Linked DNA regions of Homo sapiens: region 2 is linked to region 1. The links come from fine-mapping of genetic effects on gene expression. Tissue or cell type: blood mononuclear cells. Region 1 holds a variant in brackets; the other region holds the start of a gene. All regions are shown on one strand. Distances are between the middles of the regions.

Region 1 (8,103 bases):
GATAATGGGGGTTGGATGAAGACATAATTTTCACTGTTTGAAATCTTTACCATTTATTCTGCCTACATTAAGAAAAAAAAGGCAAGAGAAGCATAATAAATATATAGAGGCAAGTCTTAGAAGAAACGGCTGAGTCTGAAGTCTTTTACGTCATAGAAGGTGTCAGGGAGATGGAGGCTGTTGCTTTTTAACCACGATATGCATTACTTTGATGAGACTATTTTAAAAATTGTTTTTATTGTGCTAAAATAAACGTAACACAAAATTCACCATTTAACTTTTTTTTTTCCGAGACGAAGTCTTGCTCTGTTGCCCAGGCTGGAGTGCAATGGCACCATTTCAGCTCCCTACAATCTCACCCTCCCAGGTTCAAGTGATCCTCCTGCCTCACCCTCCCAAGTAGCTGGGATTACAAGCATGTGCCACCACACCTGGATAATTTTTGTATTTTTAGTAGAGACGGGGTTTCACCATGTTGACCAGGTTGGTCTTGAACTCCTGACACCAAGTGATCCACCCACCTTGGCCTCCCAAAGTGTTGGTATTACAGGCGTGAGCCACCACACCCAGCCCATTTAACCATTTTTAATTGTACAATTCAATGGCATTAAGTACCTTCATGTTGTTATGCAAGCGTTACCACCATTCATCTCCAGAACCTTTTTCATCTTCCCAAACTGAAACTCCAGACCCATTAAACAATACTCCCATTCCCCAATCCTCCCAGCCCCTGGCAACCACCATTCTGCTTTCTGTCTCTATGAATCTGATTACTCATATATTTGGAATCATACAGTATTTGTATTTTTGTGACTGGCTTAGCTTATTTTATGTAGCATAATGTCTTCAAGGTTCATCTGTGTTGTAGCATGTGTCAGAATCAGCCTTTTTGTGGACGAGTCATATTCAGATGAAACTATTTTTTAAATAGAGGAATAGGAGGAGGAGGAAAAAAGGAGGATGTAGGTAGATAATAAGAGATGGCCTAGGTCAGGCAAATGATGTGCTGTTTGCCCGGCATATTAGTTTTCTATTGCTGCATAACAAATTACCACAAAGAGCAGCTTAAAGCAATCCCGTTTATTACCTCACAGTCCTCTGGTTCATATATCTGGGCAGTGCAACTGACTGGGATCTCTGCTCACAGTATTACAACGTCTGAATCAAGATGTCAGTGGGGGCTGGGCGCAGTGGCTCACATCTGTAATCCCAGGACTTTGGGAGGCCGAGGCTGGCGGATCACTTGAGGTCAGGAGTTCAAGACCAGCCTGGCCAACATGGTGAAACCCTGTCTCTACTAAAAGTACAAAAATGAGGCAAGCATGGTGGCGTGCACCTGTAATCCCAGCTACTCGGGAGGCTGAGGCAGGAGAATCGCCTGAACCCGGGAGGGGGAGGTTGCAGTGAGCCGAGATCGTGCCAGTGCACTCCAGCCTGGGTGACAGAGCGAGACTCCGTCTAAAAAAAAAAAAAAAAGATGTCAGCAGGGCTGGGCTGTCATCTAGAAGTTCTTTCAGCCTCATTCACACTGTTGGCAGAATGTTCCTTCCAGCTGTGGAACCGAGGTCCTCATTTCCTTGCTGTCGGCCAGGGGTGAGGGGAGCTCCTAGAAGCCATTCTCCCTTCCTTGCACATGCCCCCACTACCTTCAAAGCCAGTAACGGCAGGTCAAGTACTTCTCATGCCTTGATTCTCACTTCCTTCTCTCTTACCAGCCAGAGAAAACTCACTTTTAATGAACCCATGGGATTTGATTGGGCCCACCCAGTTAATCTACCTTTTGCCACATAGCATAACATAACCTTACAGGTTCAACACACACTCAAAGGGGAGGGCACTGTACAAGGGTGAGGGTCACCGGGGACATCATAGAACTCTGCCTGCCCCAATGACCTTCACCCTTGGATAATTAGCTCTTCTGTGGAATGTGTTACATTACATGGCAAGAATTTTGCAGAAGCAATTAAGGTTACTAACCAGTTGACTTAAGATAGGGAGATTAACCAGGTAGGCCTAAGATAATCACGTGAGCCCTTTAAAAGCAGAATTTTGTCCAGCTGGTGACAGAAAAGAAGTCAGTAGTTCAAAGCATGAGGAGGGCTCTATCTTGAAAGTGGAGAGTGCACGTGGAAGGGACCCTAGAGCAGCCTCTAGTACCAAGGCCACCCCATGGCCAGCAGTGACCATGGTAATGAGGACTTGCTAGGAAATGGATTCTGCCAACAATGTGAATGAGCTTGGAAGTGATTCTTTCCCAGGGCCTCTGAATGAGAGCCAGGCCCAGCTGAAGCCTTGATTTCAGACTTGTGATACTGTGGGCAGAAAACCCAGTCAAGCCTGCACAGACTTCTGACCTACAGAACTGTGAGGTAATAAAATGGATGGTGGTTTTTTTTGTTTGTTTGTTTGTTTTGAGACAGTCTTGCTCTGTCGCCCAGGCTGGAGTGCAGTGCCACGACCTCGGCTCACTGCAACCTCCACCTCCTTGGTTCAAGCGATTCTCCTCCCTCAGCCTCCCAAGTAGCTGGGACTACAGACACGTGCCACCGTGCCCAGCTAATTTTTTTGTATTTTTAGCAGAGACGGGATTTCACCATGTTAGCCAGGATGGTCTCACTCTCCTGACCTTGTGATTCACCTGCCTCAGCCTCCCAACGTGCTGGGATAACAGGCGTGAGCCACCGCACCCAGGGATGGATGTTGTTTTAAGTCACTAAGTTAATGGTGATTTATTATGTAGCAAAAGAAAATTAATACACCTGGCTGTCCCCCTACCCATCTGCTCCCAAAACTCTTATTTTGTTTATGTTCCAAGAGGTGTTTTAGACTAGACTGCAGACAGGCAGACCTGGATTCGAGCTTGCCCTCTATAAGGATTTGCAGTCATGAGCACAGTAAACATTCACTAAACAGCAGCTGTAATGATAGTTTTTATACTCATACTCCCTCTGTAATTGATCCCAATTCCCTGCCCCACTTCTCTGGAAAGTTTGCACACCCTCCCCTGCACTTTGCACTTATTCTCCTACTGCATTATCAGACGTTGCTTCAGCCCCTGTCATGATGAAAGAGCTCTGAGAATGTGGAAGAACACAGTGGAACTTTCT[G/A]GAAGTCTGAAGTATCCAGTGAAGAGGGCTGCTCAGGGAGGGGTGAGTTATCTGTTGCTAGGGTAGCTACCTGTCAGGGATGCTGGAAGGGGTTGACTTCATGACATCTTGAGTCTGCCTCTAGCTTGTGTTTTCAAGCTGGCATTTTGTGGGGGGGGCGGCGTGGTGGGGGGAATTTTTTTTTTTTTTTCAGATAGTCTCTCTCTGTTGCCCAGGCTGGAGTGCAGTGGTGCGATCTCAGCTCACTGCAACCTCCACCTCCCAGGTTCAAGAGATTCTCCTTCCTCAGCCTCCCAAGTAACTGGGATTACAGGCGTGAGCCACTGCACCCAGCCTGGCACTTGTTTTATTGAAATATATATACACACACACACACACACATAAGCCAGGAGGCAGGTGCTAGAAGGTGAGAGACCTCTCCAGCTGGGGTTAATGGGGAAGGCAGAGTCAGGTATTAGAGTGAGGCATTAATTCATTCACTGAATTACTTGAACATGTATTCTTGACTCTGGCAGTCTTGCACTGGGAGATTCTGACATAGACTGAAAAATAGGTGAGATTTTGACAGCTTCTCCTGTGGAAAAAGTTCCAGGTAGAAGTCACATCATGATCAAGACCTGACAGATCCAGTTCTCCATGGAGCAGCCACAGGACAAGCAGGGAGTGCTGAAGCATGCGTTCTGCTAGGAGGGAGGAGGGATGGGACTTGTGGTTGTTTTGGTGGTGTGGGACAGGGAAAGGATGAGAATGAGCACAGTGGATCCTGGAAGGTTGGGGCTGGGATCAAGGAGTCTCCTAGTTCTGTGCAGGGATCCAGAACAGGGAGATGCAGGCTTGTGGGTACAGAAACAATTGACCAGCTGGCAGAAGCCATGAAAGGTGGATGCAGGATGGATCCTGGGCGCCTCTTGGTGGCCATACTGATAACTACACCTGGTAACACCCGGACAGCCAGTGCCCAGCTGATGGACTGCTTCACTTAACTCTGCACTGGGAGGACACCCACACCTACCCCGGACTATCTCTCATTGCAGTAAGAATGATTTGTGTAAATGCATCTGTGCCTGAGGCTGTGTGTCTTGTTGCCCAAATGCGTTGGTGTATACTTGTGTATGAGTGTATGCACGTTCATTTGTGTGTCTGAGAATGTGTATTGGTGCTGGTGACTGCGCACATGTGCAAGTTGTGCATGCATGTATGTACTAGGTGCTAGCATGTAAGTATGCATTTGCATGCACTAATGCCAAAACATGCATCTGTATGTGTGTATGTTTGTGCAGATGTGATCTCTTGTGTGCTTGTGTCTGAGTGCATGTGTGGTAATTTAAGTGTATGGGGCTTGGCTTTCTGTTACACATTGAAATAGTTAAGCTCCATAATCTTATTGTTTGTTTAAAGTTTGCTCTTGGATGCAGGCCTGTTCCAGAATAACTAGCAGATGCGAAAAGCATCCATTATGTATTTTTGCAATTAGCCGAAAACCCAGAAACTTTTCTTAAATGACAGACACAATTCTGTGGGTTGCTTATTGCTGGGAGCCACCTCCTCTCCCGGCTCGTCTAGTGCCCAGCCCCAACCCTGGCCAAGCCAGAGAGGGTTTGCCAACTGTCCCTAGTGAGATGGAAAAACCATTCAGGGTTTCAGAATACAGCTCAAGGGACAGCTTACAGTGAAGAGGAGGAGGAGGAAAACGGAGCAGCCTCCTAAATCTAAAAAGCCCTTGTCAAACTGACTCATGCAGCCCAGCTTCCTAGTCTGGACTCAGCTAAACAGACACTGGATAAAATTCACCTTCCTTTACCTGTTATGAAAGGTTTATCGCTTTATCTTTGCATACTCCTATCTCCCATTATTTGGTGCATGGACCCTCACCCCCTCCAGCTAAGTGGGTCTCTCCTGTCCCTCACTGCTATCTTTTTGCTACTGCTGTTTCTCTCTTTTCCAATGCAAACTGGGCACCTCCTGCCCACCAACAGCATTAATGCCAGTAAACTTTGTTAAGCACTTATCCCAGGCACTGGGGAGGACACCCAGGGAGGGGGTGGGAGGCAGAAACAGAGGCTTAGGGAAACTTCTCAGCATTTGGGTTCTTATGGTAAGGCACAGATCCTCATGATGCCCCTTAGCCTTTCCTCCCCACTTGTATATACAGGGAACTCTTATGTGTCAGAGAGTATGTCTGGAATTCCAGGTGGACTTCAGACTTAGATACCTACTTGAAGAAGATGATCCCCAAACCACAGAATCTCCAGAGTGAAAGACTAAAGCATTCTGCCAAATAAGCATCCAGGGCCTGCGTGCACACTTCCAGGGACGGTGATCATGTCCTCAGGCGCTCCAATTCAGTGTTGGGTGGCTCTGACCTTAGACGGTCTTCCTTATGTTGTTTCCACTGCCCTAGTTCTGCCCTCAAGCCCACATTGAATACATGTACTCCATCTCCCTTCAGAGGATTGTAGACAGTGGTGGTAGTCCCCTGGCCTCTCCTCACCATTTTGTTTTTGGTTTTGATATGGAGTCTCACTCTGTCACCAGGCTGGAGTACAGTGGTGTAATCTTGGCTCACTGCAGCTTCCACCTCCTGGGTTCAAGCAATTCTCCTGCCTCAGCCTCCTAAGTAGCTGGGACTACAAGCACTAGTCACCATGCCTGGTTAATGTTTTGTATTTTTAGTAGAGACGGGGTTTCACCATGTTGGCCAGGTTGGTCTGGAACACCTGACCTCAAGTGATCCACCTGCCTCGGCCTCCCAAAGTGCTGGGATTACAGATATGAGCCACCGTGCCCAGCCTCTCCTCACCTTTTAAGACAGTGGCAGCTGCTAAGTAAGATTATAGAAAGCCCACTATGCCAAGCTGCCATCCATGTGACAACTCCCTTAGTGGGAGAGCATTTGTGATACTGTTGCATGCAGTACTTCCCTCTCACTCTGTGAGCTCAGGAATGGCAGCAGACTAAGCAGCTGTTTAATTTGTGAGCTTTCACTATGGTTTGTCACCAACTGTCAATTCATCAACACTAAGTACCTACTCTGTGCTAGACACTGTGGATAAAAAGACCAAGACTTTTTTTTTTTCAACTTTTATTTTAAATTCAGGGAATACATGTGCAGGTCTCTTAATGGTTATATTGCATGATGCTGAGGTATGGGGTACAATTGATCTTGTCACCCAGGTAGTGAGCATAATTCCCAATAGGTAGTTTTTCCTTGCCTCTCACTCTTTTGCAGCCCCCAGTGTCTATTGTTCCCATCTTTGTGTCCATGCGTACCCAATGCTTAGCTCCCACTTTTAAGTGAGAACATATATTTACTTTTGTTCCTGTATTAATTCGCTTAGGATAATGGCCTCCAGCTTTATCCATGTTGCTGCAAAGGGCATACTTTTGGGTTTTCTTTATGGCTGCATAGTATTCCAGGGTGTATATGTACCACATTTTCTTTATCCAGTCCACCGCTGAAGGGCACCTGACTTGATTCCATGTCTTTGCTATTGTGTATAGTGCTGCGATGAACTTATGAGTGAATGCATCAAAAAGACCAAGTTGAACTTATGAGCGAATGCATCAAAAAGACCAAGACTTGATCCCTTGCCCACAAAGATACAAGGCTGTGAGTTTTCATTATCTGCTCTGATCACTTTGTTTACTGTGGTGGTTCTCAAAGTATCAATATCAGTATCACTTTACACATAAAAGAAATGCAGGGCTGGGAGCGTGGCTCACGCCTATAATCCCAGCACTTTGGGAGGCCGAGGCAGGCGGATCATGAGGTCAAGAGATCGAGACCATCCTGGCCAACATGGTGAAGCCCGTCTCTACTAAAAATACAAAAATTAGCTGGGCGTGGGGCCACATGCCTGTAGTCGCAGCTACTCGGGAGGCTGAGGCAGGAGAATCGCTCGAACCCGGGAGGCAGAGGTTGCAGTGAGCCAAGATCGCGCCACTGCACTCCAGCCTGGCAACAGAGCGAGACTCTGGCTCTAAATAAATAAATAAATAAATAAGAGGCCAGGCGCGGTGGTTCATGCCTTCAATCCCAGCACTTTGGGAGGCAAAGGCAGGGGGATCACTTGAAGTCAGGAGTTCGAGACCAGCCTGGCCAACATGGTGAAACCCCACCTCTACTAAAAATACAAAAATTATCCAGGTGTGGTGGCATGTGCCTGTAGTCCCAGCTACTTGGGAGGCTGAGGCAGAATCACTTAAACCTGGGAGGCAGAGGTTGCAGTGAACCAAGACTGCACCACTGTACTCCAGCCCGAATGACAGAGTGAGACTCTGTCTCAAAAATAAAATAAAATAAAATAAAAGTAATTAAATTAGAATTTCTGGGGGCAGGGCCTGAGGCATTGGTTCTTGTTTTAAATATGGTTAAAAAGACATTCAACAAATGCTCAGCATACTGAATGAAATCCTGCTACATAGTAACATAGTGGTTCTGGAGTATCACAGGATACTACTTTGCTTTTCCAAGTGTTTGTTAGGAATGACTGAGGTAAATGCATGTTAGTGGCCGGGCACGGTGGCTCAGTGGCTCACACCTGTAATCCCAACATTTTGGGAGGCCAAGGCAGGCAGATCACTTGAGGTCAGGAGTTCGAGACCAGTCTGGGCAACATGTCTCTATAAAGTTTTTTTAAAAATTAGGTGGGCGTGGTGGTACATGCATGTGGTCCCAGCTACTCGGAAAGCTGAGGTGGGAGGGTCGTTTGAGCCTGATCAAGGGCAGAGGTTGCAGTTGGGCAACAGAGCCAGACCCTGTCCTTTTTAAAAAAAAAAAAAAAAAAAAAAAACATGTTGGTGTTGAGGAGTAAGAGCTGGGAGAAAGGAGAACTGGGTTCTAGGCCTAGTTCTGCTCCTAACTGTCTGGAGGGCTTTGAAGAGGACACTTTCCTTCTTTCAATATACAAACATTTATTTATCTACTCTGTGTCAGGCTATTAAGACAATAGAGAAATCCAACTAAGACCTCTGAAATCTCTTTCCCATTCAAAGA
Region 2 (8,103 bases), 54 kb after region 1:
AGGGAGGGAGGGAAGGAGAGAGGGAGGGAGGGAAGGAGAGAGGGAGGGAGGGAGGGAAGGAAGGAAGGAAGGAGAAAAGCAAACAAAACTGAAAAACATCAGTACAAATAAATGTGCAAAATCAATCCCAAAACCTCCCTCCAATCTTTCCTTCCCAGTACAGAACACTCTCAGAAGACACTGTATCAGATTTGCCTTTACCTTCTCTAGGTCTCCAGGAGCAATTTGCAGAGCAGAATTCACCTCCAGAGAAAAAATACCAGCTTCCCTCTAACAATACCCACTTCACTAATTTCAGTGCCTTAGAGAGCAAGATATCCCTAAGGGTTTTTGGTTTTCTCTTTTTCTTCTCTTCCTGTCAACTGAAGATTCTGTAGCTAGGACTCAAATATGTACTTCTGGCAGCCTGAGTTGGAAATCAACATACTAAAGTAACAATTTCAGGTGCCCTGTGAGCTGCATTAGCTTCAGCCAGATTAATTGGAGAATTTACCGTGGATTTATGTAATTTTTTTCCTACAGGAAAAAAACCTCCAAAACTTACATTATTTTGGAATTTAGTTTATAATTGCCTGTATAAAAAAATATTGAGTCAAAATAAAGAGATTCACAAAGGAAAAAAACAACATACCGCTGACTTCACTAACAATAGATATTCCAGGCCGGGCACAGTGGCTCACACCTGTAATCCCAGCACTTTGGGAGGCCAAGGTGGGTGGATCACGAGGTCAGGAGTTCGAGACCAGCCTGGCCAACATAGTGAAACCCCGTCTCTACTAAAAATACAAAAATTAGCCGGGCATGGTGGCGCGCACCTGTAGTCCAAGCTACTCGGGAGGCTGAGGCAGAGAATCGCTTGAATCCAGAAGATGGAGGCTGCAGCGAGCCAAGATTGCCCCACTGCACACCAGCCTGGCCGACAGCGTGACACTTCGTCTCAAAAAAAAAAAAAAAATAGATATTCCAGTGTCTGTCTAGCCAGCTAGGGAATAGCAATTGCTAAATTATAAACTATTTGGAATTAGTTGATTGACAGCTTAATAAAGTTTATGGCAACTAGACTCAAGAGAATACTTTTCATTAAAGAAGATAACAGTTTAAGGTCAAATAATTGTTGAAATCTTAATAATATAATACATTACAGAACATATCTCATCATGGAATCTTGTAACTGATAATTAACAAGTTTAAAATATTATTTGCCATTACTGAACAGAATAAAGAATAATTGCAGAATGTGTAGATTATTTCATTTATGTATTTATTTATTTATTTATTTTATTTTTTTGAGATGGAATCTCGCTATGTCACCCAGGCTGCACTGCAGTGGCGTGATCTTGGCTCACTGCAAGCTCCGCCTCCCCGGTTCATGCCATTCTCCTGCCTCAGCCTCCCAAGTAGCTGGGACTACAGGCGCCTGCCACCACGCCCGGCTAATTTTTGTATTTTTAGTAGAGATGGGGTTTCACCTTGTTAGCCAGGATGGTCTCAATCTCCTGACCTCGTGATCCACCCGCCTGGGCCTCCCAAACTGCTGGGATTACAGGCGTGAGCTACTGCGCCCAGCCCTGAATGTGTAGATTATTTTTTAACCAGTGTAGTAGTATGGGTATTATTAATTTAGGTACAGATATTTTAAAGGCATATTATGATTCAGAAACAGCATACTGTATTTAAATGCATTCAAATATAACACGCATAAAGTAATTTAAAAGAAAAATACTATTTTGCAATAAAAATAACCAGGCCAGGCATGGCGGCTCATGCCTGTAATGCCAACACTTTGAGAAGCCAAGGCAGTAAGATCCCTTGAGTCTGGGAGTTCGAGACCAGCCTGGGCAATATAGTGAGCCCTGGTTTCTACAAAAACCTGAAAAAAAGTTAGCAGAGAGTGGCAGTGCACACCTGTCATCCCAGCTACTTGGGAGACTGAGGTGAGAGGATGGCTTGAGCCCAGGAGGCAGAGGTTGGAGTGGGCCAAGATGGTACCACAGCACTCCAGCCTGGGTGACACAGAGAGACTCGATCTCAAAACAAACAACAACAACAAAACCCACCAATAAAAATAACCAATATAATAAGATCAGGAAGTTTAAAGTAGAGGTAATAAGATCAGAAGTTTAAAGTGGAGAAAAAAACTATCTGCATCTGTCTCTGTGTGCCAGATATTTTACCTCATTTAATATTCACAAATACCATACAAAACAGCCATTTCTATGTTTTCCCTTTTCACAGGGAACTAAAGGCAACAACATCTCTGGGCCTAGAGAAACAGTAAATGGCAGAGTCAGGGTTTGAACCTATATCTCTTTGACTCTAAAGTCTTTGCCCCTTCCCCCATCATGCTATTTAAGAAAGATCACATATACTAAACAAAAATTTGAAATCACTCCCACTTTTCACTTGCCATTTATTTATTTATTTATTTATTTCTGAGACGGAGTCTCGCTCTGTCGCCCAGGCTGGAGTGCAGCAGCCAGTCTCTTTACTTTTTAAAAGACAAGTGACAAGGCCAGGCACGGTGGCTCATGCCTATAATCCCAGCACTTTGGGAGGCTGAGGCGGGCAGATCACGAGGTCAAGAGTTCGAGATCAGCCTGGCCAACATGGTGAAACCCTGTCTCTACCAAAAATACAAAAATTAGCCAGGCGTGGTGGCGCACGCCTGTAATCCCAGCTATGCAGAGGCTGAGGCAGGAAAATCGCTTGAACCTGGGAGGCGGAGGTTGCAGTGTGCTGAGATCGCACCACCGCACTCCAGCCTGGTGACGGAGTGAGACTGTCACAAAAACAAAAACAAAAACAAAAAAACAACAAAAGAAAGAGAACCAACAAAAAAAAATTTTTTTAAGAGGATGTAAATGTTATGTATTTTTTTAGTTGGACTAGTTCCACTTTGACACCTAAAATGATTTTTTTTTTTTTTTTTTTTTTGAGACGGAGTTTCACTCTTTCGCCCAGGCTAGTGTGCAGTGGCGCGATATGGGCTCACCGCAACCTCCGCCTTCCGGTTTCAAGCGATTCTCCTGCCTCAGCCTTCGGAGTAGCTGGGATTACAGGCGCCCGCCACCACGCCAGGCTAATTTTTGTATTTTTAGTAAAGACAACGTTTCGCCATGTTAGCCAGGCTGGTCTCGAACTCCTGACCTCGTGATCCGCCAGCCTCGGCCTCCCAAAGTGCTGGGATTACAGGAGTGAGCCACAGCGCCTGGCAAAATGATCAATATTTATAAATACATCTGTCCAACACATAATGACTTGTTGAACTCATCTAACTTTCTCTGGATGCTATTTAGGGAATAAAATACAGGACAGGAGTTGATTGTTATGAACATATAAGGAGAGAAGCAAAAGCCCCATGCTAATATTGGCCATATCCTAGAAGAGGAGGAAATTATAAGTTCTAGGTCAAAAAAACTTTTGTTGGTTACAGGGTTTCAGAGTGATTTCACTAGAGGCCACCAATGGTCGCCTCTTCTGTTTCTAGATATCCTGTTTTCCTTCTTTCCCAAGCATTCCCCAGATTGTCCATGAAGCCTTTTTTTCCCACAGTGTCAATGCAGCTAACCAACCATACATCTAGCTCAAAAATTGTTAAAAGAATTGAACTGGTAACCTGTCTCAAAGCAAAAGAAAAAAAAGTAACAGCATTTTACATTTGGGAGGTGTTTTATATCCTGAGAAAATCTGGGTTCAGAGACTCTTTTTACTGTATTACAAGGGCTAACTGAGGCTGGGAGACAGGAAGTGACCGAGGGCCGAGCGTGAGTTGGCAGCAGGGCCAAAGGTTGAAGCTTGATCTCAGAACAGCACTCCCGGCTTTCCCCATCCCCGACCCGGGCCGAGCCTCAGGGCTGGCTCCGCCCTAAAGCTTGCGGGGACGGGGCTCGAGAGTGCCAGCGGCAGCCCACAGCACGCCTAAAATAACACCCCGCCCCACGGGCCTCCTTTCTAGAGTAAAGACACGTTCGGTGACAGTGCGGAGTTTAGGGAACCAGAGGGAAGGCGCGGAGAAGAAAAATAGGTCTCTCCTTCAGACAACTGTGGGCGCACACGGCCTCTAACCCAAATCCGCGCTCCTGCTGCCTTCACCTGCCACACGATCAGCGACACGCTAACCTCTGCGCGCTGGGGGACCCCCAAAGGTTGGCCTCCGGGATCCCTCTCCCAGCCCACTCTAGAGACGAATCTGGTCCCCAAAATGTAAGAAAAGAAGGGGCGCAGGAACAAAGCGACCTCAAGCGGTGGCCCCCAAGGCGGGCGGGCGCGGACTACAAGTCCCGGCACGCCGCGCGCCGGCGGCCCTCGGCCACTGCCACGCGGGCGGCGCGGTGGCCGCCGGGACTCGTAGTCTGCGGCTCGGCGACTCCGCGGGGCGCGGACTAGGGGCGGCGGGACAGGCCGGCCCGCATCCCGTCAAGCCCCAAGGAGCCCGCCTGCTGCCCGGGCCTCACCTCGACGATGCGGGCGCACTGGGTCCCCTTGCCGGCGCCGGGGCCGCCGAGGACGAACACGACCAGCGGCTTCATGAGACGTGGAGAGCAGAGGAGAATCGGCCGGCGGGTCTGCAGCAGGAAGCTAAGGCCCAGGACGTGGAGCAGCCCGCTGCGGCAGCGGCTCAGCATACACCGCGCCTCGGCCGGACGCTGAGGGAGCTGACAGCGGCCGGCGCGGCGCGGGGCGGGGCGGGGAGGCGGCGGGAGAAAGGGGCGGGCTGAGCCGGCGCCCGCCGCGGCCCCGCCGCCGTGGCTGCCCGGGCGTCCGCGGCCCTGTCGGAAGGGGAGGAGCTTCGCACGGCGGCGGCGTCTCGGCGACACTCGTGCGGTCCGCGCCAGCTTTCCTCCAACCCTTGGGTGGTTATTAGTGCTTTCTGACTGCAGATATTTTATCCTGCGCCCTCAAGTGTCTGGTGCTGAGCTGGAGGCTGGGACGTGATCCGCGGGAGAGCAAAACCTATTGTCTCTGCTCGCAATGAGTTTCCATTCCAGCCAGTGAGGTATGGGGAGGTAGCCAGTGTGAATGAGTAAACACCAGTACATACAAAAGGCAGTACGATTTTGAAGAAATAACAAGTAGGACATAAGATGGCCAGGGTCGCCAGAGAAGGCTTCAGAAGAGGTGACATTCAAGCCAAGACAAAAGGATAGAAAAGAGCGAAACCAGGCAAACACCAGGATAGAGTGTCCCACAGAGAAAAGCATGTGCAAAAAATCTAAGTTGGTTTGGCATGTTAAAGCAATTGAAGGAAGGCCTGGCTGGGCGCGGTGGCTCACGCCTGTAATCCCAGCATTTTGGGAGGCTGAGGCAGGAGGATGGCTTGAGCCCAGGAGTTCGAGACCAGCCTGGACAACATGACGAGACCCCGTCTCGACCAAAAATTTAAAAGCCGGGCACCGTGACCCGTGCCTGTGATCCCAGCTACTGGGATGTTCACTTGAGCCTAGGAGCCGTAATAGCACCACTGCACTCCTGCCTAGGTGACAATGAGACTGCTTCAAAAAAAAAAAAGGAAAAAAGGCCAGTGACAGTGAGACCAGGGCTGAGTCAAATGAGGGGAGAATGGAAGGTGAAAAGTTGAGAAAGTGAGGTCGGTGGCAGATCAGGACTTTTGATTATGGAAAGGAATTTGGGCTGTATTCTAACAGCAATGGAAGCCCTTTAACTCCGTTCGCCTGCCCCCTTCATTAGGGAAGAATCTTAAGGGAGAAGAAAAGGAGACGTTCAAGAACTGAGCCTTGGTGCATACAGGCCTTTAAAAGGCCTTCTGGCCAACGTTAAGAGCTCATTTGATATTTGAGGTAACGGATTCAAAATAATTGAAGATGTTTGGCCATTCAGGCACAGGCAGAGAAGGCAGCTTGTTGCATTTACTGAGGGTTGGGATTTTGCCTGGCAAGTACAACAGAGAGAGGGGGCCAAGTGATGAGAGTGTTTGGAAGAGAATGTTCATGATGCTGTGTGTAGAATCAAAACCATACAGGAAAGCAAATAATGGCACATGAAGCCTGGTAGTGGAGGGGTTGGAGGGTGGTGGGGAAAGGGACCAATGTCTTAGAGCATTGGCCCAAGAAAGATTGCAGTGGGGTATATGAGCAAGTGCTCTGGCAGTATGGATGCTGCTGGTCTGAGTGGGATATTTGGAATTGAAATGTCCCAGCTTCTGAGTTTCTGATGATGCCAAGGTCCAGGGTGAGACCATGGGAATGGAAGACTGAGGCAGAATGCATGTCCTGTTTTTAGAACTAAGAGTCCAGGGTGTTAGATTTGTCGTACAGGTACAAGTTCAAGTCAGATAGTGCTGGAGTGAACAAAGACTATGGGAAAGGAACTAAGCTGTTTAGGGCAGAGTGACCAGGACGTTAGTAAACGAAAGCAAACAGGAGAGGAAGATAGTGGTATAGCCCTCTGTCTGACCACCCCCATTCTCCTTTTTCTTTTGGTGGTCCTTTCTTAGCTCACTCAGCATTTTCTGGCTCTTCCCCATCTCTACTCTCTCTCCTTGCTTTCTTTTTGTTGTTGTTGTTTTTACTTATTCCCATCCTTCCTACCCTTCTTTTCCCATTTATAAGTCCCTCCCTTCTCCCTGTCTCTTTTCCTGTCCTTCTCCTCACCTACTTGCCTTTGTTTGCCCTTCTTTTCCATTCTCCCTTTAATTTCTACCTCTTTCCTCTCCACAACTTCTACCTTTTCCTTCCCACCATAGAAAGGAGAATGGGATATTTTTTATTATCACAGCTGGAAAAAAATTTTTTTGGGGGGGATAGAGTCTCACTCTGTCACCCACGCTGGAATGCAGTGGTGCCATCTTGGCTCACTGCAACCTCCACCTCCCAGGTTCAAGCGATTCTTCTGCCTCAGCCTCCCAAGTAGCTGGGATTACAGGCACCTGCCACCACCCCTGGTTAATTTTTGTATTTTTAGTAGAGAGGGGGTTTCACCATGTTGTCCAGGCTGGTCTTGAACTCCTGGGCTCAAGTGATCCTCCTGCCTTGGCCTCCCAAAGTGCTGGGATTGCAGGCATGAGCCACCGCGCCCAGCCAGGCCTACACTACACTACAGGTGGTGGTGTGCACCTGTAGTCCCAGATGCTCGGAAGGCTGAGATGGGAGGCTGAGGTGGGAGGATCCCTTGAGCCCAGGAGGTGGAGGCTGAGGTGGGAGCAGCCCTTGAGCCTAGGAGGTGCAAACTCCAGTGAGCCAAGATCGTGCTACTACATTCTAACCTGGGCAACAGAGCCAGACCCTGTCTCAAAACAAAAACAAAACATTTTTCTATGGATACTGAAATTTGAATTTATATAATTTGCATGTGTCCCAAAATATTATTTATTTTTATTTTTAAAATCCATTTTAAAATGTGAACATTATTTTGAGCTTGAAGGCTATACAAAAACAGGGACCCACGTTTAGATATGTGAATTTTCACATAAAAAAACACGGCCGGGCGCAGCGGCTCATGCATGTAATCCCAGCACTTTGCGAGGCCAAGGTGGGCAGATCACCTGAGGTTGGAAACCAGCTTGGCTAACACGGTGAAACCCCAGTTCTACTAAAAATACAAAATTAGCTGGATGTGGTGGTGCATGCCTGTAATCCCAGCTACTTGGGAGGCTGAGGCAGGAGAATTGCTTGAACCCAGGAGGTGGAGGTTGCAGTGAGCTGAGATCGCACCACTGCACTCCAGCCTGGCGACAGAGCAAGACTCTGTCTCAAAAAAAAGAAGGCTCCAAACCCTTCAGCTTCTGGGGAGGAGGAGCTAGGACATGGGCAGCCAAGAACAAGGACAATTGGTCATATTGGGAATGGGTAGCAGGAGTATGAAAAAGGCCATATCAAAACAAATGTGTCTTCTTTTCCTTTGTTCACACAATTAGAGTTAAAAGATCTTAAGGATATGGTGTCTGTGAGAAAAAGGGCTAGGAAGCTATTGGCATACTTTTAGTGAAGGCCTTGGGCTAGAGACAAAAAGACAGTCTTTGTTGTTTCCATGATAGAACACCAGAACTAAGGATTCCACACAGGGGTTTGGGTCTGAAACTTCCTAGTAAACCTACTTAAAGCAATATGTGGTGATTTTTTTTTCACAGAGAAAAAAACTTTCTGG

Evidence for each region. PIP is the estimated chance that this variant, and not a neighbour inherited with it, causes the effect.
Region 2: CMPK1 starts here. The variant in region 1 is fine-mapped to the expression of CMPK1 in blood mononuclear cells (TOPMed, PIP 0.99).

Annotation. Positions count from the first base shown.
Region 1 is chr1:47,384,862-47,392,964 of GRCh38, reverse strand. It overlaps LINC01389 (long intergenic non-protein coding RNA 1389), which reads left to right. Exons shown (of 5, transcript NR_126355.1): 4 at 6,609-6,717. Among named protein-coding and RNA genes, the nearest start is that of FOXE3, 27 kb to the left of the region's middle. RefSeq lists a silencer at 4,714-5,008. The variant G/A (reference allele first, on the strand shown) is at 3,108.
Region 2 is chr1:47,330,468-47,338,570 of GRCh38, reverse strand. CMPK1 (cytidine/uridine monophosphate kinase 1) reads right to left here and starts at 4,781. Exons shown (of 6, transcript NM_016308.3): 1 at 4,455-4,781. The coding sequence starts at 4,625. RefSeq lists enhancers at 3,659-3,718, 3,235-4,038, 4,039-4,842 and a silencer at 4,229-4,868.